2 separate regions of the Homo sapiens genome follow, and region 2 is linked to region 1. The links come from fine-mapping of genetic effects on plasma protein levels. A gene starts in region 1. The other region holds a variant in brackets. All regions are shown on one strand. Distances are between the middles of the regions.

Region 1 (14,944 bases):
GAGAGGGGAGCAGTGTAGACATCGTGCCATTTTCCATATGAAACAGGGCCAAGAAGAAGGGTTCTCTGTGGCCTTATCTTGCTGGGACTTGTGAGATACCAGGATCATGGATTAGAAACAGAAAGAATGGGTTTCCCTGGACCACGGAGAAGACAGCCGATATTCTGTCTTCAAGCCTGAGGACCATCCACTCCCACCTCTACCCCAGCTCAGATCTGAAGAGGGCCTGAGACCAGCAGAGTCCCTAAGAGGGGGGTTGCAGGCTGCTCAGGGACAGAGGGAGGCACCGCTAGGAGGTGTGTGGGCTCCAGCTCCGCTCTTACTTCCTTTATCCTCCATGCTCTTCACAAACGTCCTGGCCTCCTGGAGGTTCTCGGGCGTGGCCTGGACTAAGTGCTCTTTCCATGTGGACACATCTCCACTGAACAGGATGAAATTCAGATAGTCTTCCTCTTGCATATCTTCCAGGATTCTGAGAAGGGCCTCCTTTGTCTGGAGGAGAGACAAAGAGCTGGGAGAAGCCGCAGCAGAGAGTGAGGTCCCTTCTCAGCTCAGCAGGCGGTGCAGCCCACGCCATCTGCACCAGCGAGCCCTGCCTGAGGCTTGCCACAGAAGCGGGCAGAGGCCGTGAGCCTTCTCTTATCCTGTCCCCTTTCTCCTCATTCACCACAAAGATCAGCTTTTTCCAGTTAAAAAAAAAAATCTCTTCCACCCCCTACTACCCCGAGCCCTGGCTGTGCCACTGGTGCTGATTACCTGCTCTAATTTCCGACCAGCCATGGAGCCGCTGATGTCAATCACAAAGGCCACGTTCTTAGGCACCACTGGAAGGCCTTGAGGTGCAAAGAAGTGCACGAAGTAGCCATTGACTATCTGGAAAGTGGGGAGAGGGACGGAGGCCGGTGTCCTTTTAGCAACACCACATTGACTATTCTTGCAGGTAGAAGCCAGACATTTACCAGCCCAAGAAAAAGACGTTCCTATCCCACCCTCTAGGGGGTGCTGCACCAGGCTCTAGGCCATCAGCTGTCCCACATCCTGCAGGAAAACAGCCTTGGGCTGAGGACCCAGGGTGATGGCACTAGATCCAGCTGCAGCCCCCGCCCGACCAGCCCTCGCCCCACCCTGATGATGAATCAGCCAGCCCGGGTACCTGCACGTTGCCAGGAGATTCTCTGTTCACGTCATAGGTGATAGTGAAATCTCCATTGAGGAGGGAGTCTGTACAGGTTGGGCATGAACGCTGTTGGTCTAAGCTGGGCTTGAAGGACACATGGCCCTAAGGGATGGAGATGAAAGACCTTGCTCAGCTCGGCCAGGGCCTGCCCACTGGGAGACCTCAGCCCTTAGCTGAGGGAGCAGAGGTGCAGCCTCACAGGGAGGAGCCCTTGGCAGGGCAGAGGCTAGCAAGAGCTGGAGGCCTGGGCAGCCCTGCCCGCCGGTGGCGTGCTCTGCAGCTCCCAGGACTCACTGGAAGGCACTGTTTACCACGCTCCGGCCTTTCTGAGCACCGCTTTTCCCCTTGGAGATCAGGGCTCCTGGCTGGGCACAGGCCTTGGCTGATTCAGCTTCCAGCTCCCTTTTTCTTGGCCTCACACACCCATTAGCCCAGGCTACCTTGGAGCTCAGCACTGAGAAGCTACTTAGGGAAGGGGTAGCTTCCCATTAAAAGGAATTTCTTGTAGGTTTGGAATGTTGGTGTGTGGGTGCCAAGAGGAGGGGAGGGAGAAAGGAGGAGAAAGGGGAGGAGGAGGGTCCCGGGGCAGGATGTGGCCCTGCAGAAGCCAGCAGTCCTCTGAGTGTGTGCTCCTCGGGCCTCGCCCTGGAAGTCCTGGATGATTGGTTTGTTGTTTATACAAACATTTATTCACCCACTGTCCACTGCCATTAAGGCCCCTGGAACAGCTGGGAGCCTTGGGGACTGGAGTCAACCACCTAGCACCAAGAATGAAGTTCTCTTTAGTCTTTCACCTCTCATTGTGGAGTCAGTAGATCTAAATGACTCCCTTGGGCTTCAGCCTCGGGACCTGTAAAACAGGGAAGATAAGCCCTGCCCTGTCCATTTCCCAAGGGGGAACGGGACCAGGCTTTGTAAATGGCTCCTCTGGCAGGTCATTGTCAGCAGCCCCTGCCCTCAGCATCCTCACTCCCAACCCCAGTGGGCAAGGAGGAAGGTGATAGTTGCAGATTGATCCCCAGCCCCACCCCAACACATGCATGCTTGCAGCAGCTAAGCCCTAGGCTGCAGGCTTGTTCTGCTGGAGTCAGTATTCCTGTCCCCTGCCCCACCAGGTCTGAGAGGCATCTACATCACCTTTTTCCCTGAGAAGGACTTGGTGAGGGCGCTTCCCAGGAGGTCGTTGGTGATGAAAGAGGCCTCAGCATCCAGCATGCTGATTCCCTGAGGCTCGAAGATGTCTACCTCGATCTGAAATGGCCAAAGTAAGGAAATGTCACTCAGTGACCTCAGAGGCCAGTTCCCAGAACAAGGCCAATGGGAATGAGATGGGTCTGTGGTGATGCAGGGACCCTCTAGGACAGTGCTGAGGGCCAAGCCTGGTGTCTCCCACTGCGAAAGTGACCACAGGGGCTTGGAGGAGAGTATGCTGATCGGGAGGTGTTACCACCGCCTGCCATATGCGCCCGAAATTCCACCACTGATGCTTTTCCTTTGGCTTTCAGCTTTGAGGTAGGAAAAATGCCCATGTGCCCAGTGAGAAGCCTTACAGAGGCACTTGCTGGTGTTGCTCTTGAGGGCCCAGCACCGAATCTGCATCTGTGGAGTCCATCCCAGCCTCTTCCCCTTGGCCCCAGATGCTTTTGGCCAGAACCATTGAATTCCTCCAGCCTTCCCAGCCAAGGATGGGGGATGCCGTGAGGCAGAACTTTTGTTTTTGACCCCTGTCTGAGACTGCCCCATGGGCGGGTTCCTGCACCCCGCTGCCGTCCCCCCAGGTCTGCAGGGGCGGTTGATTACCTCAAAGTGTTTGACCAGTTGCTTAGGCTGGACCTTGAGGTACATCTCGTACTTGCCCTTGTGCCTCTTCAGCAGCTCCTCGTAGGTTAGCTCGAAGGTGACTTTGCTGCCTGCAGCCACGTTGACCGAGACTGTGAACTTCTCCAACTTCCTCCCAGAGGCCCTGACCAGGGTGCGAGATGGTGACTCCCTCAAAGACTGCAGGAGCCCACCCTTCCTCGGCCCTCGGCCCCAGGCCCAGCCCTTTGGCGAGGGAGATCCCTAACCATTCTGAGCCTCACTTGCCTCAGCCTCAACGTGGGATAATGGCAAAATTATGGGCACATTTTGCTATACCAATAATAATAGCTGTTGTTGTTGTTTGTAGCCCTGAAGGCCCTTGGATCCCAGACATTCTCCCCAAGGCCTGGGAGTCCATACTTACTTGACCAAGCCGGCCGTCTTGCCCTGGGACACAGCCTTTTCATACTGCTTCTTGGCAACTTCCTTCTCCTTGACATTCCCAGGGTAGGTAACACCGTCGATGGTCCTGCAGGGAAAGAGAGTTGGGGGTAGGGAGATCACACTGGGCCAGACCCCCTGTTCCCGAGCCCAGAGCCAGCAGCCATGGTGGTACCCACAAGGTGAAGTTGGTGATGAAGGCCGTCTTGGGCAGCTCCACATCAAAGGAAACCTCCTTGGCCGTGTCTGCACGGTTGACGGCTCTCATGGTGACAACATTGTGAGCAAAACGGGAGGTCACCTTGGAGTTGATTTTGGTACTGTAGACCTCGATGCCATTGGCCACCTTTGGGGAGGTGGGTGGAGAATCAGCCAGACTGGGACACTGGAGAAGCAGGTTTGCAACCCAGCCACCTCCCTTGCAAACCCTTGGAGGCTCTGAGGCCCCTGCCCGGCACGCAACCCTCATCCTCCAGGTCTTCTACACTGGAAGACTTGGTGGCGTCTCCAGTCTCCATGTTCTGGTGGCCACCATTATTCAGATGCTTGTCCTGCCTCCTTAATTCTGCGATCCGTTTACACACCACTGCAGCCAGTGAGAGCTTGCCCTTTCCCGTCCAGTCACCCTGAGCTCCAGCTATGCGTGGGACACTGGCTCTGGAGCATCTGCCCCTGGCTCTTCCTGCTCATCCTCCACACCTCACACTCCCTCAAGCACACAGCCCAGCCCACCTCCTGGGTCTTTAGGTAATTGCCTCATTCTGTCTCCCAAAGAGGAACTGATTTCCTGTGCCAAGGGAAGTCTCCAAACACCCTCTTTCCAATAGGGGTGTTGAATTTTGAGAGGCTCTAGGGAGGTGTTCCAGCCCCCTCCCCCTAGGGATATAAAGATGCTTCGTGAGGGTGTGGCAGGGACCGCTTCACAGAGCCAGGTACCAGCAAGTGCTAAGGAAGTGTCTGCGGAAGGAAGGGATGCCTGTGAGGGGCCCTCTTGGGCTACATCCTGCGAGGTTGGAGGGGTCGTCACTCTGTGGTGCTCTTTCCCAGGAGTCCTGCGCTGTTGGAGGCTGCCAGGGCAGAGGGCCGTAAGCTGTTTGCCAGCTGTGAGGAGTCAGCTGTTATAGCCTACACCTTCAGCAGTTGGGGAACCAGCTCCATCCTGCCCTGCCCCACTCGGTCCCACCCCCTGGTGAAAGTTCTTACCCCTTCCGGGAGGCTCCGTTTCTGAAAAAACAAAAACAAACACAAACACAGGAATCAGGCCAAGGCCAACACCAAGGCCGCATGGCCTGGGAGGCTCTGGGCTGAGACCAGGGGTTCAGTGGTGCCCTGCCCCCCACACACCTGAGTGGCCCCCAGACATAGGACCCTCCAGAGCCACATGTCAGAGTAGGAAAAACTCTGAATAGATGGGGAAACTGAGGTCCAGAGAGGGGCAGGTATCCAGGTTACCAGGAGAGCAGGGCAGGGGGAACTGAACCCAGAGCTCTCTTCACACCCTACATGCCCCACCTCATTCTATCTCCCATTCTGCCTTTCCCTGGCCCCCAGGCCCCTTTAGGCCTCCTTCCAGAGCACCCCTGCCCCCGCCACACCCCGCAGGGCTCAACTGAGCATTTTGTAGAGGTCACACTCGTTTGAGACTTGAACCTTCATTGCCCCTCAGTGAAGTGAGCAGTTCCTGGTGCATTGCTCTTTTGACAGGTGGGGAAGCTGAGGCCCAGGGAGTTTTAAGAGCCTTCCCAGGGTTAGACAACAGGTTAGCATAGGCCTCAGCTGGAGCCCGGTTCTCCCAGTGTCCACACTACTCCCAGCAGCTCAGTGCCCAGCCCTCTGCCTCCTCTTCACTCCACTCAGAGGCCTTGCCCAGCATGATGCCTTCTGCCCATTCCACACCAAGACCCAGATGGCAAAGAGGGGGCAGACTCACCCCAAGCAGCCGAAAGGGGCTTCTCGGGAAGCCAGAGGCTGCCAAGCTGGAGAGCAGAGCCAAGATGAGACAGGGCCACCATGCAAATGCCATCGCTGAATACTCAGGCCTGGCCCACGCTCCTTATATGAGCAAGCCTGGTGTTTTCCAAGCAGGGTCAGTGACCTGCAGCGGGGGTGGGAGGAGTGGAGGCAGGAAGGGCCTCCGGGAAGCTGGGCATGGGTGGAATGACGGGTCCCTCGATGTGTCTGTCTGAAGAAGGCCTGGTGGGTCTTGCCAACAGCGTTGGGGCTTCATTCCTGAGAGACCGGGGGACTCGGAAGAGGCCCGCAGGAAAGCAGAAGCTGTGGGCCAACAAATGGACCCTGGGACTCCCTGGCGTGGATGATGGAGATGGGGTGTGGAGTTGCATTTAGGGCAAAGGGCATCTCAGCATTGTTGCCTCTTATCCCTACCACTGGGACAGCCTCTCTCTGGCCTCCTGGATTGCAGCCCCTCCCTTCTTGAGGCAGCCAGGGCGTGAAACTAGACTGTCACCTTCAGGCTGGGACCTCCACAGCAGAGCCCCTCGCTCACTACCCTTCTATGGCCCCCAAAGCCCCAGGGAAAGGACACACAACGATCCCGGAAGCCCAGCTGTCTCTGTGATCTGACCCCAGCTTGTTTTTCTGAGCTCACTCTCTTGCACCAGCACACCCTCCCCTTCTGCACATGTCACATCTTTCATCTCTCTGCCAGTCCCAGTGCCTCCCCTCCAGGACCCTTCCCTGGCCATCCCCTAGAGGACTATGGGACATCCCTGCTCCAAGCCCCAAGCCCCCTGAGGGCCTGCTTTGTCATGACCTTATGTTGAGGTGGATGTGCTCAGGTCTGCCTGCCCCCTCTGCACCCAGAGCTCCTGGGGGCTGGACCATGTCATGTTTCCCTCTGTGCTTCCAGGGCCCAGCCAGGGACTTGGCTGCCCTCAGCCTTTTGGGGAGTCATTGCCCTAAAAGTCGTAGTGAGGCTGGGCTCCAGCTTCCAGGACAACAGGAGCTTTAGAGGCAGGACCTGGTCTCAGTGGGGGCTGGGACCTCCTGAGCCACCTCAGGACCCTGCCAGCCTAGCCCCATCAGGGCAGCTGTTGCACACCCACCATACCCATGGCTTCTCTGAGCCAAGCTGACCCTGTGACCCTCCCACTGGGCAGCCCACTACTGAATGGAGTCGACAAGGACGGCTGGGTCCAGGACAACTAACTTATGGGGAGTTCAGCGGCCTCAGCTGAAAGCTCTGGTGCTGACTGGGAGATGTGCAGAGAGAGTTGTTGGGAGCAGAGGAACCAAGAAGGCAAAAGGCAGATGCCACGGGGCAGCGGAAGCCCTGAGGAGGGTGTGGTCTAATGGCTGGAAGAGGCAGCAGCCACAGAGCAATGATGGAGAGTTGCCAAATCAGCCAGGCACTATGGCTCTTGCCTGTAATCCCAGCTTTTTGGGAGACTGAAGCTGGAGGATCACCTGGGCCCAGGAGTTCGAGGCTGCAGTGAGCGCTGTGTTCGTGCCACTGCGCTCCAGCCCGGATGACAGGGCGAGACCCCCGTCTCAAAAAAAAAAAAAAAAATTGAAAAGAGGGAGTTTCCAAGCCAGTGAAATGATGGCCAAGTGGCAGATGCTGCCTGTGCTTGGTGTCTGGCTGGGCGGTGCCTGTTTCCCTCGGGCCTCCTGAACCCTTACACCAACCTCACTGGCAGCAGGCACCAAGCTCGGGCCTGATGGAGGCCAAACCCAGCAGGTGCTGGCGCCTGGGTGTGGAGAGAAGACCCCTCAGAGCTGCCGTGTCCTCATTTCCTGGCTTCTGGGATGTTTTCAGTCCTGTGGCTGCTGGCACTGGGTGGCTGGCACTGTTGCCCAATGGCTCCTCCTCACGGACCTGCAGCTGCCTGCAGAGCTTCTCCTGTACTCTCTCATCTGGACCACTGCCTCATCCCCAAGTGCCTGGAGTTTGGGGAGACGGACAACTCGAAATAGGGATTCTGTAGCTGCTCAAGCAGCCTCAAGGGATGGCTGGGGACTTGGAGGAACCAGAGTCGTCATGCAGACTTTATAATTAGACGGAATCTAAGAGATCTTTGGGTTCACCGCCTTTCCATTCTACAGGAGAGGGAGATGAGGCCCCCATTGGGCAGGCCTTGCCAAGGGTGACCCCGACAGCTGGCAGCTCACAGCTCTTCCTGGAGAACCCCAGGATACCTGGGAAGGTGGGCTGGCCGCCCCACAGCCTGCCGCTAGGGGCTCTGTGTTCATAGGGCCTGGGGCAGCCTTTGAGCTCAGCATTGGTGTTATTGATCCAGGCCCTCAAAACCAGTCCTTGTTCTGTCTGGTCCCTTGTGAGCCTCATTTATAGTGGAAACTGGACAGAAACTAGCAAGAAAAAGCAGAAAGCCTCTGGAAAGCAGTGGGTGGAGGCCTGTGCGCATTCACACACAGAGCTCTCTGACGTGTGGCTCACCTCCCTGCACCTGTGACATTGTGTTTTGACTGGGCCCCAAGGTCAAGCCAAGGGAGGGGACCCTGATGGGGTAATTCCAGGCATTCACATGAGGAGATGGTAGGGTGCCACTCCTGGCCCCCTGAAATCACAGCTTCTGGGCAGGGACCATCTCTGCCTTTGGAAAATACCAGCCTGGCTGCCAGACGTTACAAACCCTCAGCAGGGAAATGGTGTGAGCTTTCTTCCCAGCCTCTGACCTGCTTCTCCTCTCCCTGGGTCTGTTGTAACCCCTTAGTCCATCTGAGGGGCAGCATCTTGGGCTGCCTCCCTGCCATCCTCCCTCCCCAAAATCAGCCAGCTCAGGGTGGACACGGCCTCTCTTTAATGGAAGGCATGAGGTGCTTTGACACAAGGAACCAGCTTAGTCAAGGAGGTACAGCCTCAGCAGCAGGTCAGGATGTCGTCCTCCTCCTCTGCCTTGGCCCCGGGGGAGGACAGGCGTGCTGGCCAGAGGGCTCAGAAGATGTCGGGGACGATATAATCAGTGTAGGCACCATCGATGAGTCCAGCCCCATTGTTGTGAATGAACCAGCAGGACACCTCGGCCCCATGCCACGGGTCCTTGCTGTAGTCTTTTTGCAAACCCCTGTGCAGAGACAAGTCAGCTGGGGTCACCCTTCGGACCAGTAGGGCAGCACCTCCCCAGGAAGCTCACCCCACCCATGTGACACCTGGAGGAAGACCTGGAAGAACTACAAAGTGGCCGAGGGCAGACGTGCTGGGCAAGCAGCCCACCCACCTGGTGACCGTGAGCCGGCGGTTCCTCACCACCATCGTGGCATCTGGCTTTGTGGGGTCAGAGCCTGGGTGGATGTCAGACACTTCAAAACCGATGGGGTGGAAAAATTGCCCTAGAAAGGCACATTGGAGACAGCGGTTACCATCTCGGGGACTTGCTCCTGCCCTGCACTCAGCAGGTGCTCACTGCGGGGTTAGAGCATTGCTGGACCGCTTTTTTTCCAGGGCTTGACTGTTTCTGCTAACAGTCCCAGCATGAAAAGCTACCTTTGGTTCACTTGCTATAGAGAAGTAGATACATTTCTAGGTGGTCCTACCTCCTGTCTTTTAAAACGGGATCTGTCTGGGGAGAGAGGTTTGAGGGCAGGTGCCCATAGAGAGCAGTGTCTGTAGAAAGGCCACACAGGAGCAGTGTGGTCAGTGACCCACCCTACTCACAAGGTTCCTGGGAACCCTCTGGGCCTTTCTTTTTGCGATCAGACCTCTGCCCCTCACTTGCTCCCAGGCTCGCTTAAGCGTTTGTTTCACTGTGTGTTTGCTCACAGCCTCACCAACACAGCCCCTCAGACGGCTCTGCTCCTTGGAGGCCACACTGGAGGTGGGCCTGTCCTGGTGCCCAGCTATAGAACTGACCGGTGGCCCCAGGTCCCACATGTCCTCTGGCTTCAACACCCTTCCCCACAGCCCTGCCAGCCTGGCCAGCCGTACCCAGCAGCCCGTGCGTCCGGGCTGACATCCGATGACTGTCCAGCACATAGAAGCCCAGGAAGTCCTGGTGGACCGAGCTCCCCTTCCACACTCGGTGCAAAACAACCTCAAAGGTGCCACCGTCGTCCACAGACACCACCAGGTTCCTCTTCTTGTTGATGGTCACCACCACCCTGCAGAGCCAGGTGGCCGAGAGGGCAGGTGCGGCTGCACTGCATCCCTCTCCATTCAGCTGCCCTTGTCATCTGGGACCCAACCCTTATGACCACGCCCCCACCCCATGGCCTTCATCCCCAGATGGCCGGCTGTTACCTGTTCCACGCCCCTCCCCACATGTTGCTTGGGGCCCTTGCAATGTGCCAGGTCCTGTGCTAAGCCCTCTGTGCAAACTGCATCATTCAATCCTCACTCCGAGCCTGTGAAGTCCCAGGCTCAGAGAGGTTAAGTAACTTGCCCAAGGTAGCACAGCTGGTAAGCAGTGGAGCCAGGACTTGGACTTCAGGCTGTCTAATATCAGAGTCCGTGTTCTGTGACTCCCACTCATCACCTGTGACCTCCACAGCAGACTCTCCCCACCTCTTCCTATAGCTCTGCTGCCCAGCATTGCTCTGGTGCTTGGCACAGTTTGTTGAATGAATGAATGAATGAATGAACGAATTAGTAAAGGAAGGAAAAGTCATGAGACAATGCAGACTAAGACATGCCAAATGAGAAGCCCAGAGAAATCTGGAGTTCAGCAGAGGAAGAGAGCAGGAGGGCTGAGGGGAAGAGGTGGCCTCTTTGCTGGGCCTGGGAGGATGAGCTGGCTTTGTTTGGTAGAGACAGGGGTGGCATTCAGAGCTAAGGTGCGGTGGGAGCACAGTTGCCATGCAGCTGGGCCCAGAGGACATATCCAGTAACCAAGGGAAATGGAGGGCTGGGTGGGCCATGGAGTCTGACATGTCTGCACAGGCCACATGGGTGTCACCCACAGACATGGCTCAGGGACGAGGGCCCTGCAGACTCAGCAGAGTCCTGGGCCCAGGCCACACCTCCCCCTGCATCTTGCCCAGGCCCTGGCAGGTTACCCGTCCTGCCGCAGCACAGCTTGGTCCCTCCAGGAAAACACAGGCCCACCAAAGCCGGGGTTCAGCGTAATGTTCTGAGGAGTCACTTCCAACTGAAAGTCCGTGGCAGGGTTTGCGATTCCCAGCCGCCCGAAGTACGTGCCGTCATGCTGCCCAGGGCTCCTGGCCTTGTTGCCAATGAGCTGTCCATTCACTGAGAAGCCTGCAATGGAGCAAGAGGGCATCCGGGTTGGGAAGGGGCCTGCCTGCCTTTGCTTAGCAGGATCATGCCTCCTTCCTAAGAGGCCTCTACGCCCTGCCTGTGCCACTCTGTCTTTGAGAGTCTCCTGCCTCAGGGTCTCCAGGTCTGGTCCCGCACACAGCACCACCTCTCCTTCCTCTCCACCCCTCCTGCCATGCCAAATATCCCATACTCAGCTCTCAGTTCTGGGTCCTAACGGAGGTCGTGCCTCCCCGAGAACAGGACCTAGCCTGCTCCTTCTCTGTGGCCCCAGCCCCTCACACAGGGACAGGCTCCCATTGTGCTGGAAATGCATTGTGGGACCTCTTCACAGAGGTCTCCGCTGACCTGGGCAGCCACAAAGCCCCCTTCCCACCCTCACGCTGCCAACCCAGCACGTCTCATGCTCTGAAATGATCATCTCAGAATGTTCACCTGTTTGTCTTCCCCTTCCCTAAACTCTATGAAAGCGGGACTATCTTGGCTCCCACTGCATTCCCAGCCCCTCGTTGGTGCACAACAAACACTTGCAGATGGACTAACTGGACAGGGAGGGAAGGAGACAGGAGGGAGCAGGGGTGAGAGAAGGAGAGGGAGCTGTTCCCCATAACCAAGGCACTGCTGGGAGAGAGGTGCTCTGCTCAGCCATGCTTCATGGGGAAGGTGGGGCAGGACTGTGACATATTTGCAGGACCTAGTATGAAATAAAAAGGAAGGGCCCCTTGTTTAGAAAGTGTTAAGGGTTTCAAGGCGGCAACGGAAGAGCATTAAACTGGCTGGGCACGGTGGCTCACACCTGTAATCCCAGCACTTTGGGAGGCCGAGGTGGACGGATCACCTGAGGTCAGGAGTTTGAGACCAACCAGGCCAACATGGTGAAACCCCATCTCTACTAAAAATACAAAAATAAACCAGTCATGGTGGCATGCGCCTGTAGTCCCAGCTACTTGGGAGGCTGAGGCAGGAGAATCACTTGAACCCAGGAGGCAGAGGTTGCAGTGAGCTGAGATAACGCCACTGTACTCCAGCCTGGGCAACAGAGCAAGACTCTGTCTCAGAAAAAAAAAAAAAAGCCCCTGTGTGCCTACCCCAGTCACATGCTGATAAAGCTGGCCCTGTGTAGGTGCAGCCAGGAGGATGGCGTGGGAAGGCAGCGGGCAGAGCCCAGCCAGGTGGATGGTGCCCAGGCAGAGGGCAGTGAGGGCCTTGGCCATAGTCCTGTTCCTGGCTGAATGTTGAGGGCAGAGGAGCCCTGGCCCTGTCTGGCAGAGGTGTGATGCCCGCCATACCTGTGTTGGGGTCCTGTACCAGGCTCAGGATAACACCAGGCTCCTCATTGATGTTGAAGCACAGGGTGTCCTCTTTCTGGGGCACGTGGATGATGAAGTGAGGGTCTGTGTCCACTGGGGGCACAGCATGGAATTCGTTAGATTGGACATCGGGCAGATGGGGCTGGCCAGGGGTTGGGGTTCAGCTAGGCAGGTCCCAGAGAGAGACAGAGAGAGAGAGACAGCCAGATAGGGTGGGTCCCAAACAGGGGTGTCCCTCAGACCCTTCCAAGGACTCACCGCCGGTCACTCGGTCTGGCAGCCGCTGGGTATTGGAGCTGGAATGAGTAGGAGAAGGCTGCAAGGCTGACAGCACGAACGCTGATGGGAGGGGGAGTGGCATTTAGAAGCGGGGCAGCCAGGCCTTCCCTGGAGCTGCTGATCCCTCTGATGACTCTTTCCTCACTGGTGGGGCTGGCCTGAGGCCACCAAGCAGGGATGTCCACTCAACATCACATGCCCTTGATTGGCTCCCGGGACACGGGGACAGAAGCTTGGCCTGGCATGTTTAGCTGGCCCCCTCTCTGTCTCCTCCCCCAGGGACCTCAGGCTGGGGAGGCCAGGCTGTTCAGAGGTCTGTTCTAAAGATTCCCAGTGACAAGCAGTGAAGACAGCTAGAACGGAGGAAGAAAGCCAACGGGGTGATCATCAAGGAGGGGTAGAGATGTGAATGGCCAGGATGGCTGCCACTTACTCCTTCTGGGTCCCAGCATCTCTGTAGAAGACAAGGACATATTATCGAAGACAGTGTCACCCACGGTGCCCCACACGAAAGGCATGCAGCTCTGTCCACAACAGGCCTGGGCCCAGCCGTCCCTCTGGGGGTCTCAGCCCTCCCCTGGGGTCCTGCCTCCTCACAGACATACACTCACACCAAGAGGGGACCAGTGGAGGCTGCTGGGGGTTCAGCCTGCACAAAAGCTCACAAAGCGCAGCAGGGAGTTCGCGGTGATGTGGAGAAGGGCGGCTCAGGGGACGGAAGAACGGGAAGGAGTGGAGTCAGGGAAGAATGGGGATGGGGAGCTGCGAGCCTGGGGCTGGAGCACCTGCCACCTGCCCAGCTACCGAAGCCCAGAACTGAAACTAATGCAATTTAAAACTCACCCAAAGGCGGAGAATCTGGAAGGGAGAGAAAGAGAAAATAATTAGAGCCCCAGAGGTTTTTGGCCCATGGCCTCTCCCTTCTGTAGACCCCTGCAGCCTATACCCTCTGAGGGCTTGTCGATGGTGGGCTTCAGGCCGTCCTGGTCCGCCATGCCCCTGATGCTCATGGAGGTCAGTGGGGTCACAAACCCATAGTCCAGCGACATCTGCAGGGCCTGGGATGACAGGTTGGCCCTCTCCTCCCTGTCCACCTTCATCCTGCATTCAAGACAGAGGCTGGCTCCAAGCCCCGACTTGCACGGCCCTCATCCTTTCACCTATCCATTCACTTATTCATTCATTCATTCATTCATTCATTCATTCGACACATAAGTATTAAGCCCCCATGGTGTCCTATGCAGTGGCTACATCCTCAGGGGCCTCCAGGTTTAATGATCTCTTACAGAGATCACTTGGAGATTCGGTGGGGTTGAGGGGCATGCCTCAGAGATACGCAGAGACGTTAACAGCTGTGAGATCTGGGTCAAGAGGTCTAACCTCGCTGAGCCTCTGTGTGCTGAGTGTGGGTAAATAGCAGGCTGCCTTGTGCCCTGGTGGGCCTGCCCGGACTGTTGACTGACTGGTTGATATTAACTCAGTGAGCAAAGCAGAAGAGGAAAGTAAATCTGACCTACTTGCCCCAGAACCACCCCTCCTCTGCTCACCTCCAAGGGGTGGGGGGACTCTGGGGTGGGCAGTGCCCACCTGGGGCAGCTGCAGGTGCCCTACCGCTTGGCCAGCAGCTCCTGGATGGTGAGGTAGGCCCAGAGGCGCTCGACGTGGTTCTCCAGCATGTGGCCACGCTCTCGGAGCAGTTTCTTCATCTCCTCCTCATCCACTAGGCAGGTTATACTGAATTCTTGTCCCTCCTGAGAGTTGAGGTACAGAGAGGGGTGGTGCACCATGATAAGCACGGCCCCTGGCTGGTGCTAGGGGCTCTGAGGGGCCCATTTCGTCTGGTATCTGCAGCTTCGTCCTCAGCATCACCTGCTTCCCTGAGCCTGTTCGCCTCATCCTATTCGTTGATTCTTGCCAAGCACCCTCTGCAAGCCAGGCTTGGCCTGGACCCTAGGGATCCCATGGAATGGGAGAACCAGGCCCTGCCTTGTGGAGTTTCTCTAGGGGAGGCCAATAAGCACCCGGCTGTTTCCACTATGACCCACTCCAAATGCCCACCAAATTCTAGGTGGGCTGCACCATTCAACTTGCCACGGCACACAAATGTGCCTCCTCCATCCAGCTACATTAACCGGGGCACCACTTCCCAAGGGCATCCTATGCACCAGCTGCTGCCTAAGGGTATTATATGGATTATTCCATTTACTCCACACAATGCTCTGATGCAGTATGGTACAGAAAAGGAAACTGAGGCCTAGGGAACTGGACCCCTTGCCCAAGGATGCCCAGCTGGTCAGGATGGAGCCAAGGTCCAGCTCAACTCTCCTTACTCAAAGCCTGAGTTCTGAACCTTCGACCACACTTAGGGCGTTGTCTGTGTCCTGGAGGGCAGGATCCAGGTCTCACATGCCTGTCCCCACCACACACAGGTGCACATACATGCATGCACTGCACCATGGCACAAAGCCTGGCACACAGTAGGTGTTCAGGAAATGGTTATCAAATGAGAAGGGAGAGGTTGGTCTCTTGCTCTCTTGCACCTTGGGATGAATGATGCGAAAAATAACAATTGGTCACTGGGGGCCGAGGGACTGCAACTGATAAAGGCCATATTGGCCCCATTCCAGCCAATCCAGCCCCCAGGATGCCTGTGTGGAGGGATGTTCAGGCCTGGGGTGTATGTGGCATGGTGGGGATGAGGGTACTACTCTGGGGAAAGAGAGGCCTCTGGGGGATGGCAGGAAT
Region 2 (14,944 bases), 29 kb after region 1:
CGTCCTTTGGGGACGCAGGAGCATGCGCAGAACTGCTCCCGGCCCGGATCGCTATGGCAGCGGCGTCGTCGCGGGCCGGGCCCCAGCAATCCCGCCCGGGCCCGGCTGCCTCAACAGCCGCCCCCACTGCCCCCTCTCGGGCATGAACCGAGCTTCTTGTTGCCGCCCGCTGCCCTACCCGCCGCTGCCGCCGCATCCCGACTCTGGGCCAGCGCTGGGAACATGCCCCTGGCCGCCTACTGCTACCTGCGGGTCGTGGGCAAGGGGAGCTATGGAGAGGTGACGCTTGTGAAGCACCGGCGGGACGGCAAGCAGGTCTGCAGGGGTGGGGCCCGGCAAGGGGCGGGGGCGGGCAGAAGTGCGCCGAGGGCGCCGACCGGTAGATTAGGTCGGGGGTGGTCGCAAGAGGCTCATCTCGGATGGCGTTTCCTCAGGGAAATGGTCCCAGACCAAGACGAGGCCTGGCCTCCCTGTAATATGCGCCCAGAACTACTTCTACTTCTTTGTTGTGTTAAATTTTTTTCCTTTTAATTTTCATTTTCTTTAATTACAATTCTAAGTTTTATGTAAAAATTTTCAGTCTCTGCCTATCTACTTCTTTGTTGTACTAATTGGCATGCGTGATCTACACACCTTTCTCCCAACCCCGATACTCTCATGAGAGCCGGTATCATGCATTCCCAGGACTTAATACAGCGCCTAGCAAGCATTATTCCTTGAATGAAGGGCCCCAAACGTCTCTACTGTAGACTGCTGGATTCACTTAAAACTCGACTCATTTTCTTCCCGCCAAACCTTCTCTCATGTCTTCCGTTTCAGTGAATAGTGACACCAACCCACCAGTTGCCCAAGCCGGACACCTGGAGTCATTTTTAAGCCTCCCCACGCACCCCAACACTGATTATATTCATCTATCACTAAGACAATAGGCCTCCTCTCATCTCTACTGCTACCACCCCAATCCAGGACACCCTGTTGTCTCTAGCAAAGCTATGGCCACGGTTTCCCAACTGGTCGCCGCCACTTGACTTGCTTTTCTCCAATCCATCACTTTCACTGCAGCCTCAGTGATCTTTCTCAAATTTAAATCTGATGTTGTCACTCCTCTGTTTAAAACACTTTATCCCATTACTCTCAGGATAATGAACCAATTATTCAATGTGGTTTATTAATAGGGTGACAATATAATGTACAAACTGGGACAATTTTGAAACTGAAAGGCATTATTAATAGTTACACCAGGACAGTAGGACTGCTCCAGGCAAGCTGAGAAGAGATGTTCCCCCTAAATATAGGGCCCAATTGCCTGTTCTTCCTTGTCTCTGGTGCTAGTTGCTTTGCGTGGAACACAAGCTCATGCATAAGAAATTTATTCAGTAGGCATTGGGGGAATCATTGGATTTTGGGGCTGATGATAGGGAACTAGCAATAGCTAGTTATTTGAGCTTTAGTTTACACTTCACAAAACACATTTATCTATGTGTTGAAGAAATGAATTGTATGGTCTTTGAAATGATTGAGGGCAATGTATTAGGTATTAGAGGCTATTGATTTCTTTTAAGTGTGAATAATTTTGTATGCTGAAGATCAGTGACTATTAAACTTATGGGGCCATGGATCCCTTTGAGTATCTAACGTAATCCACAGACTATTCTGTCTGCAAATGTATAGTCAAGCTATATTTTATTCACCTTTTTGGGAGAGCTTAGATATTAAGGAATTTCTTTTTTTATTTTTTATTTTTTTTGAGACAGAGTCTTGCTCTGCCTCCCAGGCTGGAGTGCAGTGGTGCGATGTTGGCTCACTGCTGCAACTACTGCCTCCCAGGTTCAAGCAATTCTCCTGTGTCAGCCTCCCGAGTTGCTGGGACTATGGGTACACACCACCACGCCGGGCTAATTTTTGTATTTTTAGTAGAGACAGGTTTCACCATGTTGACCAGGCTGGTCTTGAACTCCTGACCTCAGGTGATCCACCCGCCTCACCCTCCCAAAGTGCTGGGATTACAGGTGTGAGCCACTGTGTATGGCCAGATATTAAGGAATTGCTAACACAGGTTTTATAATTGATCCAATGGTATGTTATCTTGAACTCACTTTTTTTAGTCATTAATGAAATTGTGAAATGCAGATGGGAAAGGTAATTTTTGTGGCCCTACACTGCTATAAATCTAACTTATAAGAAGTATCAATAATAGCAAATATTTTCCCCGATTTTGTGCTTGGTGAAAAACAAAATGAATAGGTTATCTGACAGGCTCCACAAGGTTGGTTTTGAGGGTATTCTTGAGAGCCCTTAGATAACTCTGAGGCCACAAATCTTACGTTTATTTGCACATTGTAAAAATACATGGTTTGTTTTTAGTATGTCATCAAAAAACTGAACCTCCGAAATGCCTCTAGCCGAGAGCGGCGAGCTGCTGAACAGGAAGCCCAGCTCTTGTCTCAGTTGAAGCATCCCAACATTGTCACCTACAAGGAGTCATGGGAAGGAGGAGATGGTCTGCTCTACATTGTCATGGGCTTCTGTGAAGGAGGTGATTTGTACCGAAAGCTCAAGGAGCAGAAAGGGCAGCTTCTGCCTGAGAATCAGGTGGTAGAGTGGTTTGTACAGATCGCCATGGCTTTGCAGGTACTGTGTAGACTAATAGCATCCTAGCTTGTTCCCAGATGGCAAGAAGATGGCAGGTGTATTTTAGGAAAATTTTTCTTCAGATACTTACATATAGAAATGTATTTTTTGGAAAATTCATTTGTGAAGTTGACCCAGTCACTCTTTCTGTAGCATTGGAACTTTTCTAAGTAAGTGATACCTATATTAAAATAGACATAGATTTCATGTCTGATTGCAGGGGAAGCCCACTCAATTACCATTTATAGCAAAGTCAATTTTAAGGACCCTGAGGCAACCAAGAGCATAGAGTGACTATGTTTGTTATCCATTGGTCAGTCGTGTCATGCTGAAAGGTGGCTAGGCTAATTGATATGCCCAGTGATTTCATCTGTCAGTCTGCTGGGGTACAGTAGATGGGAATGCAAAACAAGTTTTCTTTTTTTTATTTTTTAGAATTGGGCAGCACATCATTCCTTAAGATGGAATAAGTGTTCCTACAAGTTTGTGTTTTAATATGCATATAACTCAAAAGCGAGACGTTTATGAAATACTATTTTGGAACTGGGTAGACTTGTCCAGAATTAATTGACCATGTTTAAATTCTGAGATACTTTCTCTCTTTTTTTTTTTTTCTTTTGAGACGGAGTTTTGTTTTTGTTATCTAGGCTGGAGTGCAATGGCACGATCTCGGCTCACTGCAACCTCCACCTCCCAGGTTCAAGCGATTCTCCTGCCTCAGCCTCCCAAGTAGCTGGGATTACAGGCGCCTGCCACCATACCTGGCTAATTTTTTTTTTTGTATTTTTAGTAGAGATGGGGTTTTACCATGTTGGCCAGGCTGGTCTCGAACTCTTGACCTCAGGTGATCCACCTGCCTCGGCCTCCCAAAGTGCTGGGATTATAGGCGTGAGCCACCACGCCCGGCTGAGATACTTTCTCTAAATAAAAATGCTCTTGCTGTACTTGAAAATATTATTAAGCTGAGGATTTCATGGGTCTGAGAGGACTGTGCGTCTGACTTTGTATAAGTTGTCCTACCATCAGTGGAGTTTGTAAGCATTGTTTTTTTTTTAAGACAGAGTGTCACTGTCGCCCAGATTCGAGTGCAGTGGCACAATCGTGGCTCATTCCAACCTCCACCTCCTGGGTTCAAGTGATTCTTGTGCCTCAGCCTCCCAAGTAGCTGGGATTATAGGCGTGCGTCACCATGCCCAGCTAATTTTTGTATTTTTTTAGTAGAGATGGGGTTTTGCCATGTTGCCCAGGCTGGTCTTGAACTCCTGGCCTCAAGTGATCCGCTCACCTCGGCCTCCCAAACTGCTGAACACTGCGCCTGGCCTGTAAACATATTTTTTTTTTTTTTGAGACGGAGTCTCGCTCTGTCGCCCAGGCCGGACTACGGACTGCAGTGGCGCAATCTTGGCTCACTGCAAGCTCCGCTTCCCGGGTTCACGCCATTCTCCTGCCTCAGCGTCCCGAGTAGCTGGGACTACAGGCGCCCGCCACTGCGCCCGGCTAATTTTTTGTATTTTTAGTAGAGACGGGGTTTCACCTTGTTAGCCAGGATGGTCTCGATCTCCTGACCTCATGATCCACCCGCCTCGGCCTCCCAAAGTGCTGGGATTACAGGCGTGAGCCACTGCGCCCGGCTTGTAAACATATTTTTAAACTGGATTCATGTAATGCCAAAATGGTATAATTGTCAAGCTACCAGGGAACAGTTTTGATGGGTACTGGGTAAGTCAACACATGGAACTTAATTTTCTCATTTCAAAAATTGTAAATTAGACCTTTTATTTAGAGATTATAAAGCAATAATGTTTGGTAGGTATTTGCTTGTTGAATAAGGAATTGTATGGTTGGTTACTCTTTACGGTCAAAGACTCTAACTCATGCCATTGCTGATGGTATATAATAAGCCAGGAATAAATACATAATTAAGTCTATTTATATGTAATAAAATCTTGTTTCTTTCCTCAGTATTTACATGAAAAACACATCCTTCATCGAGATCTGAAAACTCAAAATGTCTTCCTAACAAGAACAAACATCATCAAAGTAGGGGACCTAGGAATTGCCCGAGTGTTAGAGAACCACTGTGACATGGCTAGCACCCTCATTGGCACACCCTACTACATGAGCCCTGAATTGTTCTCAAACAAACCCTACAACTATAAGGTAGGATTGGGCTCTGTATGCTGGCTTACCTTGTCTCTGGGAGAGTGCTTGTAATTTCAGAAGTTAATTAAGTCAGAGAATTATCTATGAATTGGTTTAAGGAAAATGTTTTCTTTTTTTAAAGGGAAAAAAATGTAAATAAGCTATTCTGACATTTAACCGTTTACTGTTTTTATTTTCTAGTCTGATGTTTGGGCTCTAGGATGCTGTGTCTATGAAATGGCCACCTTGAAGCATGCTTTCAATGCAAAAGATATGAATTCTTTAGTTTATCGGATTATTGAAGGAAAGGTAAAGAATAATCTAGAACTAATTGACCAGTATTTCTATAGTGCAGCTTTATAAATAGCTACTAGCAAAATCATTGATGATTTTGATGAGTCAATGAGTAATTATTGAGATTGGGTTGATAGTTAACAATGGTGGGTCCCTTCTGTGGGGAAGGTCAGACTAGAGGAAAAGGGATTGATGGATCATTTCTTAATATTAATCTGTAAGCCAGCTTAATGGCTCAAAAGAATTGGCTTTTTGAAAACCTATGCCTATAGTCATAGGATGTGCCGATGCCCTGAGAGGCTATTTGTCTCTTCTTCTAAGCAGCCTATGATTCAATGAGCTACATTTAAAATGAGTTTACTCTGTTTGAACTTGTCGTTCCTTTGATAATCATCACAACAATCAGTAACTAGTTAAGAATCACAGAAAGCATTGTGTCTGATATAGACTCCAGAGTGACTGGCTTTGTATGTTCCATGAGGCTAGTTGCCCTTTATAGATTCAGGCATCCATGTATCATTAAGGTTTTTTTTTTTGTTTTTTTTTTTTTGAGATGGAGTTTTGCTCTTGTCTCCCAGGCTGGAGTGCAATGGCATGATCTCAGCTCACAGCAACCTCTACCTCCTAGGTTCAAGTGATTCTTGTGCCTTAGCTTACCAAGTAGCTGGGATTACAGGCACATGCTGCCAGGCCCAGCTAATTTTTGTATTTTTAGTACAGACGGGGTTTCACCATGTTGGCCAGGATGGTCTCGAACTCCTTACCTCAGGTGATCCGCCCGCCTCAGCCTCCCAAAATGCTGGGATTACAGGTGTGAGCCACTGCACCTGGCCAATGTACTGTTAAGTTTTAAAGGCCATAAATCATCTATTGATTTTAATACTATCCCACAACTTATTTAATTTTTCAATTTGAAGCATATTGAAAAACACACACAAAAGTAAAATTTTCCCATAATGCCACTACTTAAGAATCAAACAAGAAGGGAGTGAAATTCTCTTCTCTTTCTATTCCCATTCCCTGGAAGATGACCATTGCTAGCAAATTGGTACATGGCCTTTCTGGTTTTTTCCTGTCTTTATACAGACATAACTCTGTGTGTGTGTGTGTGTGTGTGTGTGTGCATGTGTGTGTGTGTGCATGCGCACGCGCACACCCACAGATTCTTAAACTGAAATCAGGCTGTTCACATGGTACATAACTTGTTTTTTTGACTTAATATATGAGGAACACATCCTTCCAAGTCGGTACCTGCAAGTTTTTTTTTTTTTGAGACAGAGTCTCACTCTGTTGCCCAGACTGGAGTGCAGTGGTGCAATCTCAGCTCACTGCAACCTCTGCCTCTCGGGTTCACGCCATTCTCCTGCCTCGGCCTCCCAAGTAGCTGGGACTACAGGTGCCCGCCACCACGCCCGTCCACTTTTTTGTATTTTTAGTAGAGATGGGGTTTCACTGTGTTAGCCAGGATGGTCTCCATCTCCTGACCTCATGATCCACCCGCCTCGGCCTCCCAAGGTGCTGAGATTACAGGTGTGAGCCACTGCACCCGGCCCAAGTCTTGTATTTTTTAACCTGCTGCCTAGTTTCGTTTCTTTTCTTTCTTTTTTTTTTTTTTTGAGACAGAGTCTCGCTCTGTTGCCAGGCTGGAGTGCTGTGGCGTGATCTCGGCTCACCGCAACCTCCACCTCTCTGGTTCAAGCAATTCCCCTGCCTCAGCCTCCTGAGTAACTGGGATTACAGGTGCATGCCACCACGCCCAGCTAATTTTTTTGTATTTTTAGTAGAGACGGGGTTTCACCATGTTGGCCAGACTGGTCTCAAACTCCTGACCTCAGGCAATCCACCTGCCTCGGCCTCCCAAAGTGCTGGGATTACAGGCGTAAGCCACTGCGACTGGCCCTAGTTTTTATAAGAAGAATGCATGATAATTTATTCCACAAATCCCCTAAGGGACATTTATGTTTCCAATTGTTTACTACTGCAAGAACAGTACTGCATTGAACATCCCGATACATAAGTCTTTAGGAAACTCATACTCTTATTTCTGAATGAGAGTGTCATCAGATGGGACTGCTGGGTTGGAGGATATACTTTTATAATTTTACAACTTGTTATCTTACAACTGGGATACCAGTACACTTCCTGTAGACTAATATACTGATTGTTTTCTGCTTATGTGGACATATGACTATAAATAAATATTGGGAAACCTCTACCAGCTTTTACTTTGTTTCACAAGACCATTAGTCATAATTACAATATTATTTTTATTTGTAGCTGCCACCAATGCCAAGAGATTACAGCCCAGAGCTGGCAGAACTGATAAGAACAATGCTGAGCAAAAGGCCTGAAGAAAGGCCGTCTGTGAGGAGCATCCTGAGGCAGCCTTATATAAAGCGGCAAATCTCCTTCTTTTTGGAGGCCACAAAGATGTAAGATACTTCCCTTGCAAATAGCTGGGCTAAATAGATGGGGTGAAAGAGGGTGGCTTCTGTAATATTCATATGCAAGAATTAATGGTGAGTTTTCTTAAAAACAAGAAATAAAATGGCATGATTACATATGTAGAGGAGGCAAAATTCTACCCTCTTAGGGTTTCTTGGCTGAGCTTGAGAATTAAACTTATAATTTAACAGGAGAAAAGCATGTAGATTTCTTTAATACCTGAATAAGTTTTATGTGACACAGGAGCCCTCATAAGGAAATGAAGACCTAACTTCTACTAAAAATACAAAGAAGTGGCAAAACCTAAATGCTTTTTGCTTGATTGAACAAAGAGAGGCAATTGTGGAAAAGTAAACTAGGTGGAGAGGCTAAAGGAAGATAAGAATTATTTTAATAAGGTCTGTTTATAGA[A/G]TTCTCTCAGTTTCAGCTTTCCATTCTTGATAATAAGAATGTTACTTTCCTTCTGGTACAGGGAGGACGTATTTCATATGGGAGTTTTATCTTCTGCTTTCTGGAAGAAAAAGGGAAGATCAGAGTGCCCTTCTTGCACTTACTTTTTTTTGTTTGTTTTTTTTTGAGATGGAGTCTTGCTGTGTCACCCAGGCTGGAGTGCAGTGGCATGATCTCAGCTCACTGCAACCTCCGCCTCCCGGGTTCAAGCAATTCTCCTGCCTCAGCCTCCCCAGTAGCTGGGATTACAGGCACCCGCCACCGTGCCCGGCTAATTTTTGTAGTTTTAGTAGAGACAGGGTTTCCCCATGTTGGCCAGGCTGGTCTTGAACTCCCGACCTCGTGGTCCGCCCACCTCGGCCTCCCAAAGCTTGCACTTACTTTTTAAAGAACCTTAGCCCAAAATAATCTTTATGCCAAAGTAGCATATTTTGGCGTGGCATATTCTCCCAGTCTTCAAATACATGTTGAAATTTGCTTAATTGCTAAAATCAGAAATTTGGAGAACCACTGTCACATTCCTCAGAGGGTTCTAAGACATATAGTGTAAATTTTTTTTTAAAGGACATATGCACTACTCTGGGCTCACTGCCTATGAGTTAGTCCTGTTCTCAAGGAGCAGCCAAATAATAATAAAAAAAAAGAGGGCATATGTTTTAGAAATCATATAATTAGAGATTATCTGAGAAACCTATACATCTTACTGTGTAAGATAGTAATATTTAAAAAGTAGTGCTCACATTTCTGAGAGCTTGCATAAAGTTCCCTCTTCATTCACATTAACTTCCCAAGAGAATTCCTTGCTTTGGCTTGCAGATCCTACCTTTACTAAACAGGTGTTCCAGGATCTAAGACTTAGGGCTGGACAAAACTATTACAATCTGTTTGGCTTCTCCTCTTGCCTTGTGGCATGTTAAATTTGGAAAGAGAGGAGGCAGTGCTAGAGATGCCTCAGGGAATAAAGAAGAACCATCTTTTTGTGTACATAATTTCCCACCAAGCAGACCTTTGGCCTTCCAGTGTACTGATCTCCATGCTCCTCTTGAATTCTCCAGAGGTTTAGCCCAGTTTTAGAAATGACATACTAAAATAGTTGGGGATGTTATTCCTGTATGCATTTATTCTATAAGCAGGACTAAGTGTACCAATCAGTTTTACTCTCAAAGTTAGCCAAGCAGTTGTGGTATTATTACAGACATGTAAAATTTGAAAATGAAAATTAACCTGATACTCCCGTATGTGAGGCAATCTCCCATAGAATTTTTATTTTGGAATAATTTTGTATAAACAGAAAAGTTGGAAAGATAGAGTGGAGAGTTCCTGTATACCCCTCATCTAGTTTCTTCTGTGATTACCAGATTACATACCCTAATGCATTTGTCAAAACTAAGAAACCAACATCGAAATATTACTATTGACTTGGCCATGCATGGTGGCTCACGCCTGTAATCCCAGCACTTTGGGAGGCCGAGGCTGGCAGATCACCTGAGGTCAGGAGTTTAAGACCAGCCTGGCCAACATGGCAAAACCCCGTCTCTACTAAAAAAAAAATACAAAAAAATTAGCCGGGCGTGGTGGCGTGCACCTGTAGTCCCAGCTACTCGGGAGGCTGAGGCACAAGAATCACTTGAACCTGGGCAGCGGAGGTTGCAGTGAGCTGAGATCACGCCACTACACTCTAGCCTGGATGACAGAGTGAAACTCTGTCTCAATTTTTTAAAAAAAGAAAGAAAAATATTACTATTGACTAAATTCCAGACTTTCTTTGGCTTTCACCAGTTTTTTTCTCTAATGTCTCTTTTCTGTTCCAGGATCCAATCCAGGATATAGTACATCTAATCAGGGGTCTGTGATTGTTTCTCACTTTGTTTATTTTTTATGACCTTGATTGTTTCAAAGACTACTGGTGAGGTGTTTTGTAGGATGCCCCTTAGATTTTTAGAAAACTATTCTCTATAAATGGTGCAGTTCTGTAAGGGAATTCATTGTATACACACACTCCCACATATACCTAAAAACCCTTAATCTTCAGTATATTGATAATAACTCTTTCTTTTCTTCTTTATAAAGAAAAACCTCCAAAAATAACATTAAAAATGGTGACTCTCAATCCAAGCCTTTTGCTACAGTGGTTTCTGGAGAGGCAGAATCAAATCATGAAGTAATCCACCCCCAACCACTCTCTTCTGAGGGCTCCCAGACATATATAATGGTACGTTTCTTTTTAAAGGGTATGTGTTTTAGAAACTGCACTTAGAAAAATGGGCCATCTAAGCAAATTATTTTGTGTGAAATGATTATGCTTTACTAGAGATTCTGTTGTACAATTAATTCCTTACTGTAAAGAAAGAATACTGGTTAAGGTGATTGATTTAGCTTTATCCAAATTGGGCTGTCAAATTGTTCACAAAGTCAGTGCTGTAATAACTTTAAGAATTTTTTAGGTGAAATTTATATAACAAAATTAACCATTTTAAAGTAAACAGTTAAGGCTGAGCGCGGTGGCTCATGCCTGCAATCCCAGCACTCTGGGAGGCCGAGGCTGGCAGATCACCTGAGGTCAGGAGTTCAAGACCAGCCTGGCCAACATGGTGAACCCTCATCTCTACTAAAAATACAAAAATTAGCTGGCTGTGGTGGCATGTACCTGTAGTCATAGCTACTCAGGAGGCTGAGGGAGGAGAATCGCTTGAACCTGGGAGGTGGAGGTTGCAGTGAGCCAAGACTGCACTACTGCACTCCAGCCTGGGTGACAGAATGAGACACTGTCTCAAAAATAAAAATAAAAATAAATAAAATAAAATAAATAAATAAAGTGATCAATTAAATGTGGCCAGTACATTCACAGTGTAGTGCAACCGTCACTTCTATGTAGTTCCAAAACATTTTCATCACCCCAAAGGAAATCTCTTCCTCATTAAGCAGTCACTCCCATTTTGTCCTTCACCCAGCCTCTGGCAACCACCAGTGTGTTTCCTGTCTCTATGAAGTTACCTGTCCTGGATATTTCATGTAAATAGAATCATTAAATATATCCTTTTGTTTCTGGTGTCTTCCACATAGCATATTTTCAAGGTTCATCCATGTAGCATGTATGAATACTTCATTTCTTTTTAGGTCTGGCTACCATTATGTGGATATACCACTGTTTATCCATTCATCCATTAGTAGACATCTGGGTTTTTTTCACCTTTTGGCTATTGCTATGAACATAAGTGTGCAAGTAGTTGAGTACCTGTTTTCCGTTCTTTTGGGTACATACCTAGCAGTGGAATTGCTGAGTCAAATGGTAATTTTTGGTTTGACTTTTTTTTTGGTTTGACTTTTTGAGGAACTGTTGCACTGTTTTCTACAGTGGCTGCACCATTTGACATTCCCATCAGCAGTGCACAAGAGTTCCAGTTTCTCCACATCTTTGCCGGCACTAATTATTTTCTGATTTTTTGATTCTAGCCATCCTAGTGGGTGTAAAGTGGTATCCTATTGTATTTTTGATTTGTATTTCCCTAACGATTAATGACATACAGCATCTTTTCACATGCTTGTTGGCCATTTGTATGTCTTCTTTGGAGAAATATCTGCTAAAGCTTTTGCTTTTTTTTTTTTGATACAGGGTCTTGCTCTGTTGCCTAGGCTGGAGTGCAGTGCTGCGATCACGGCTCAATCTAGCCTCCACCTCTCTGGATCAAGTGATCCTCCCACCTCAGCCTCCTGAGTAGCTGGGACCACAGCATGCCACCATGCCTGGCTAATTTTTTTATTTGTAGAGACAATGTCTTACTATGTTGCCCAGGCTGGTCTCAAACTCCTGGGCTCAGGAGGTCCTCCCACCTTGGCTTCCCAAACAAAGTGCTGGAATTACAGGCATGAGCCACTGTGCCCAGGCTTTTTTTTTTTTTTTCTTTTTTCTTTTTTTAAGAGAGGATCTTGCTCTGTTACGTAGGCTGGAGTATAGTGGCATCATCATAGCTCACTACAGCCTCTGAACTCCTTGACTCAAGGGATCCTCCTACCTCAGCCTTCCGATTAGCTGTGTCTACAGGTGCACGCCACCATACCTGGCTAATTATTATGATTATTTTTGTAGAGGTGGGTCTCACTATGTTGCTCAGGCTGGTCTTGAACAGTTCTTCTGCGTTTTCCTCCCAAAGTGCTGATATTACAGGTATGAGCCACATCACCCAGCCCCTGCCCAGTTTTAAATTGTGTTTTTGTCTTTTTGTTGTTGAGTTGTAGGAGTTCTCGATCTGTGTTCCAGATACTAGTCCCTTGTCAGATAGACAACTTGCAAGTATTTTCTCCATTGTATAGGTTGTCTTTTCTTTCCTTTTTTAGTTAAAATTTTTTTTTTTGTTTTTAAAAATTTCTTTTGTTTTTTCACTTTCTTGATAATGTCCTTTTCACAAAAGCTTCTAATTTTGATGAAGTCCAGTTTATCTATTTTTTTATTTTGTTGTCATAGCTAAGAATCCCTTGCCAAATCCAACGTCTTGAAGGTTTATGCCATAGTTTCTTCTAACAGTTTTATAGTTTTAGCTCTTATATTTAGGTTGTCGATCGAATTTTTAGTTTTAATTTTTTCATTATGATAAAGTACACATAATGTAAAATTTACTATTTTAACCATTTGTAAGTGTACAATTTAGTGGTGTTAAATACATCTATAATGTTATGCAGCCATCACCCCTCATCTTCATAACTCTCATATTGTAAAACTGAACTCTGTTACCATTAAACAGTATCTCCCCATTCCCTACTACCCCAGTCCCTGGCAACCACTGTTCTACCATTCTACTTTCTTTCTTTTTTTTTTTTTTTTTTTTTTTTTGAGATGGTGTCTTGCTGTGTCACCCAGGCTGGAGTGCAGTGGCATGATCTCGGCTCACTGCAACCTCCACCTCCCTGGTTCAAGCAATTCCCCTGCCTCAGCCCCCTGAATAGCTGGGATTACAGGTACACGCCACAACATCTGGCTAATTTTTTTTGTATTTTTAGTAGAGACAGGGTTTCACCACGTTGGCCAGACTGGTCTTGAACTCCTGACCTCAGGCAATCCACCCACCTTGGCCTCCCAAAATGCTGAGATTACAGGTGTGAGCCACTGTGCCTGGCCCACCATTCTACTTTCTGTCTCCATGGTTTTGACTAGTGTAAGTACCTCAGATAAGGAGATCTTGCATTATTTGTCTTTCATGACTGCCTTATTTCGTTTCACATAATATCCTCAAGGTTCATCCATGTTGTGACATATGTCAGAATTACCTTCCTTTTTAATGCTGAATAGTATTCTGTTGCATGTATATCCCACGTTTTGTTTATCTGGTTCATCTGCAGATGTACATTTGTGTTGTTTCCACCTTTTTTGCTAGTGTGAATAACGCTGCTATGAACATGAATGTACACTTATCTCTTTGAGACCCTGATTTCTTTTTTCTTTTTTTTTTTTTTTTTGAGACGGAGTCTCACTGTTACCCAGGTTGGAGCGCAGTGGCACAATCGTGGCTCACTGTAACCTCCACCTCCCAGGTTCAAGCGATTCTCCTGCCTCAGCCTCCCAAGTAGCTGGGATTACAGGCATGTGCCATCATGCCCAGCTAATTTTTGTATTTTTAGTAGAGATGGGATTTCACCATGTTGGCCAGGCTGGTCTCAAACTCCTGACCTCAGGTAATCCACCCGCCTTGGCCTCCCAAAGTGCTAGAATTACAGGCGTGAGCCTCTGCTCCCAGCTAAGACCCTGATTTCTCTTTTGTTGGGTATATAACCAGAAGTGGAACTGCTGACTACATGGTAATTCTAACTTTTTGAGGACCTGTGGTACTGTTTTCCACAACTTCTGTATCATTTTACATTCCTATCAGCAGTACACAAAGGTTCCAATTTCTCTACATTCTCACCAGTACTTGTTATTTTCTGGGATTTTTTAGTAATAGCCATCCTAATGGGCATGAGGTGGTATCTCATTGTAGTTTTGATTTGCATTTCCTTAGTGATTAGTTATATTGAGCATTTTTTGTGTGCTTATTGGCCGTTTGCTATCTTTTTGGGAGGAGCGTCTATTCAAATCCTTTGCCCATTTTTGAGTTGGGTCGTTCATTTTTTGCTGTTGGATTTTAGGAGTTCTCCATATATTCAGGATGTCAATTCCTTATCACATATATGATTTGCAAATATTTTCTCTCATTTTGTGGGTTACCTTTTTACTCTGTTGATAGTATCTTTTGATGCACAAAATTTTTAATTTTTGTGAAATCCAGTGTGTCTTTTTCTTGTGTTGCCTGTGCCTTTGGTGTCCTATCCAGAAAATCGTTGGCAAATCCAATGTTGTGAAGCCTTTGCCTTATGTCTTCTTCTGAGAGTTTTATAGTTTTAGGTCTTACATTTAGGTTTTTTGTTCATTTTGAGTTAATTTTTATATATGGTGTTAGGTAAAGGTCTGACTTCATTATTCTGTATATGGATATCTAGCTTTTTCAGCACTATTTGTTGAAAAAACTGTCCTTTCCTCATTAAATGATCTTGGCATCTTTGTCAAAAATCATTCGACCACATATGTGAAAGTTTATTTCTGGGTTCCCCATTCTGTTCCATTGGTTTCTATGTCTAATGTCTGTTTTTATACTAATACTACACTGTTTTGATAATGTGGTTTTGTGGTATGTTTTAAAATCATGAGGCATGAGTCCTCCATCTCTATTCTTCTTTTTCAAGATTGTTTTGGCTATTTGGGATCCCTTGAGATTCCACTGAATTTTAGGATGGATTTTTCTATTTTTCCAAAGAATGTCATTGGGATTTTGATAGGGATTAGATTGAATCTGTAGATTGCTCTGGGTAATATTAATATATTGACAATATTAAGCTTTTCTCAAGGAGATGCCCAAATGTAAAAAGAGAAAAAAAGAAAGAACAATGTTAAGTCTTTCAATCCATGAACATGGGATGTGTTTCCATTTATTTATGTCTTCTTTAAATTTCTTTC

Direction of the effects. Positions count from the first base shown, and alleles are read on the strand shown. Strength reflects both the effect of a copy and how common the allele is.
As copies of G replace A in region 2, the plasma level of the protein whose gene starts at base 5,449 in region 1 goes down (moderate association).

The links. PIP is the posterior inclusion probability: the model's chance that the variant is causal. The UK Biobank Pharma Proteomics Project read protein levels with antibody pairs (Olink). The fine-mapping took linkage between variants from a reference panel, not from the people measured, so its PIPs are less certain.
Region 2: its variant is fine-mapped to the plasma level of the ITIH3 protein (UK Biobank, PIP 0.99).

What each region holds. Positions count from the first base shown.
Region 1 is chr3:52,785,301-52,800,244 of GRCh38, reverse strand. It overlaps ITIH3 (inter-alpha-trypsin inhibitor heavy chain 3), which reads right to left and starts at 5,449. Exons shown (of 22, transcript NM_002217.4): 1 at 5,349-5,449; 2 at 4,622-4,642; 3 at 3,598-3,764; 4 at 3,402-3,506; 5 at 2,978-3,140; 6 at 2,315-2,428; 7 at 1,154-1,279; 8 at 757-873; 9 at 324-492. The coding sequence starts at 5,441. It overlaps ITIH1 (inter-alpha-trypsin inhibitor heavy chain 1), which reads right to left. Exons shown (of 22, transcript NM_002215.4): 13 at 13,811-13,950; 14 at 13,146-13,300; 15 at 13,043-13,057; 16 at 12,633-12,653; 17 at 12,179-12,259; 18 at 11,900-12,013; 19 at 10,391-10,592; 20 at 9,324-9,496; 21 at 8,617-8,728; 22 at 8,183-8,463. The coding sequence ends at 8,334. RefSeq lists an enhancer at 4,962-5,851.
Region 2 is chr3:52,756,025-52,770,968 of GRCh38, reverse strand. It overlaps NEK4 (NIMA related kinase 4), which reads left to right and starts at 29. Exons shown (of 16, transcript NM_003157.6): 1 at 29-315; 2 at 2,365-2,631; 3 at 4,594-4,791; 4 at 4,975-5,082; 5 at 7,345-7,499; 6 at 10,033-10,174. The coding sequence starts at 223. RefSeq lists a silencer at 108-217 and an enhancer at 1-252. The variant A/G (reference allele first, on the strand shown) is at 7,924.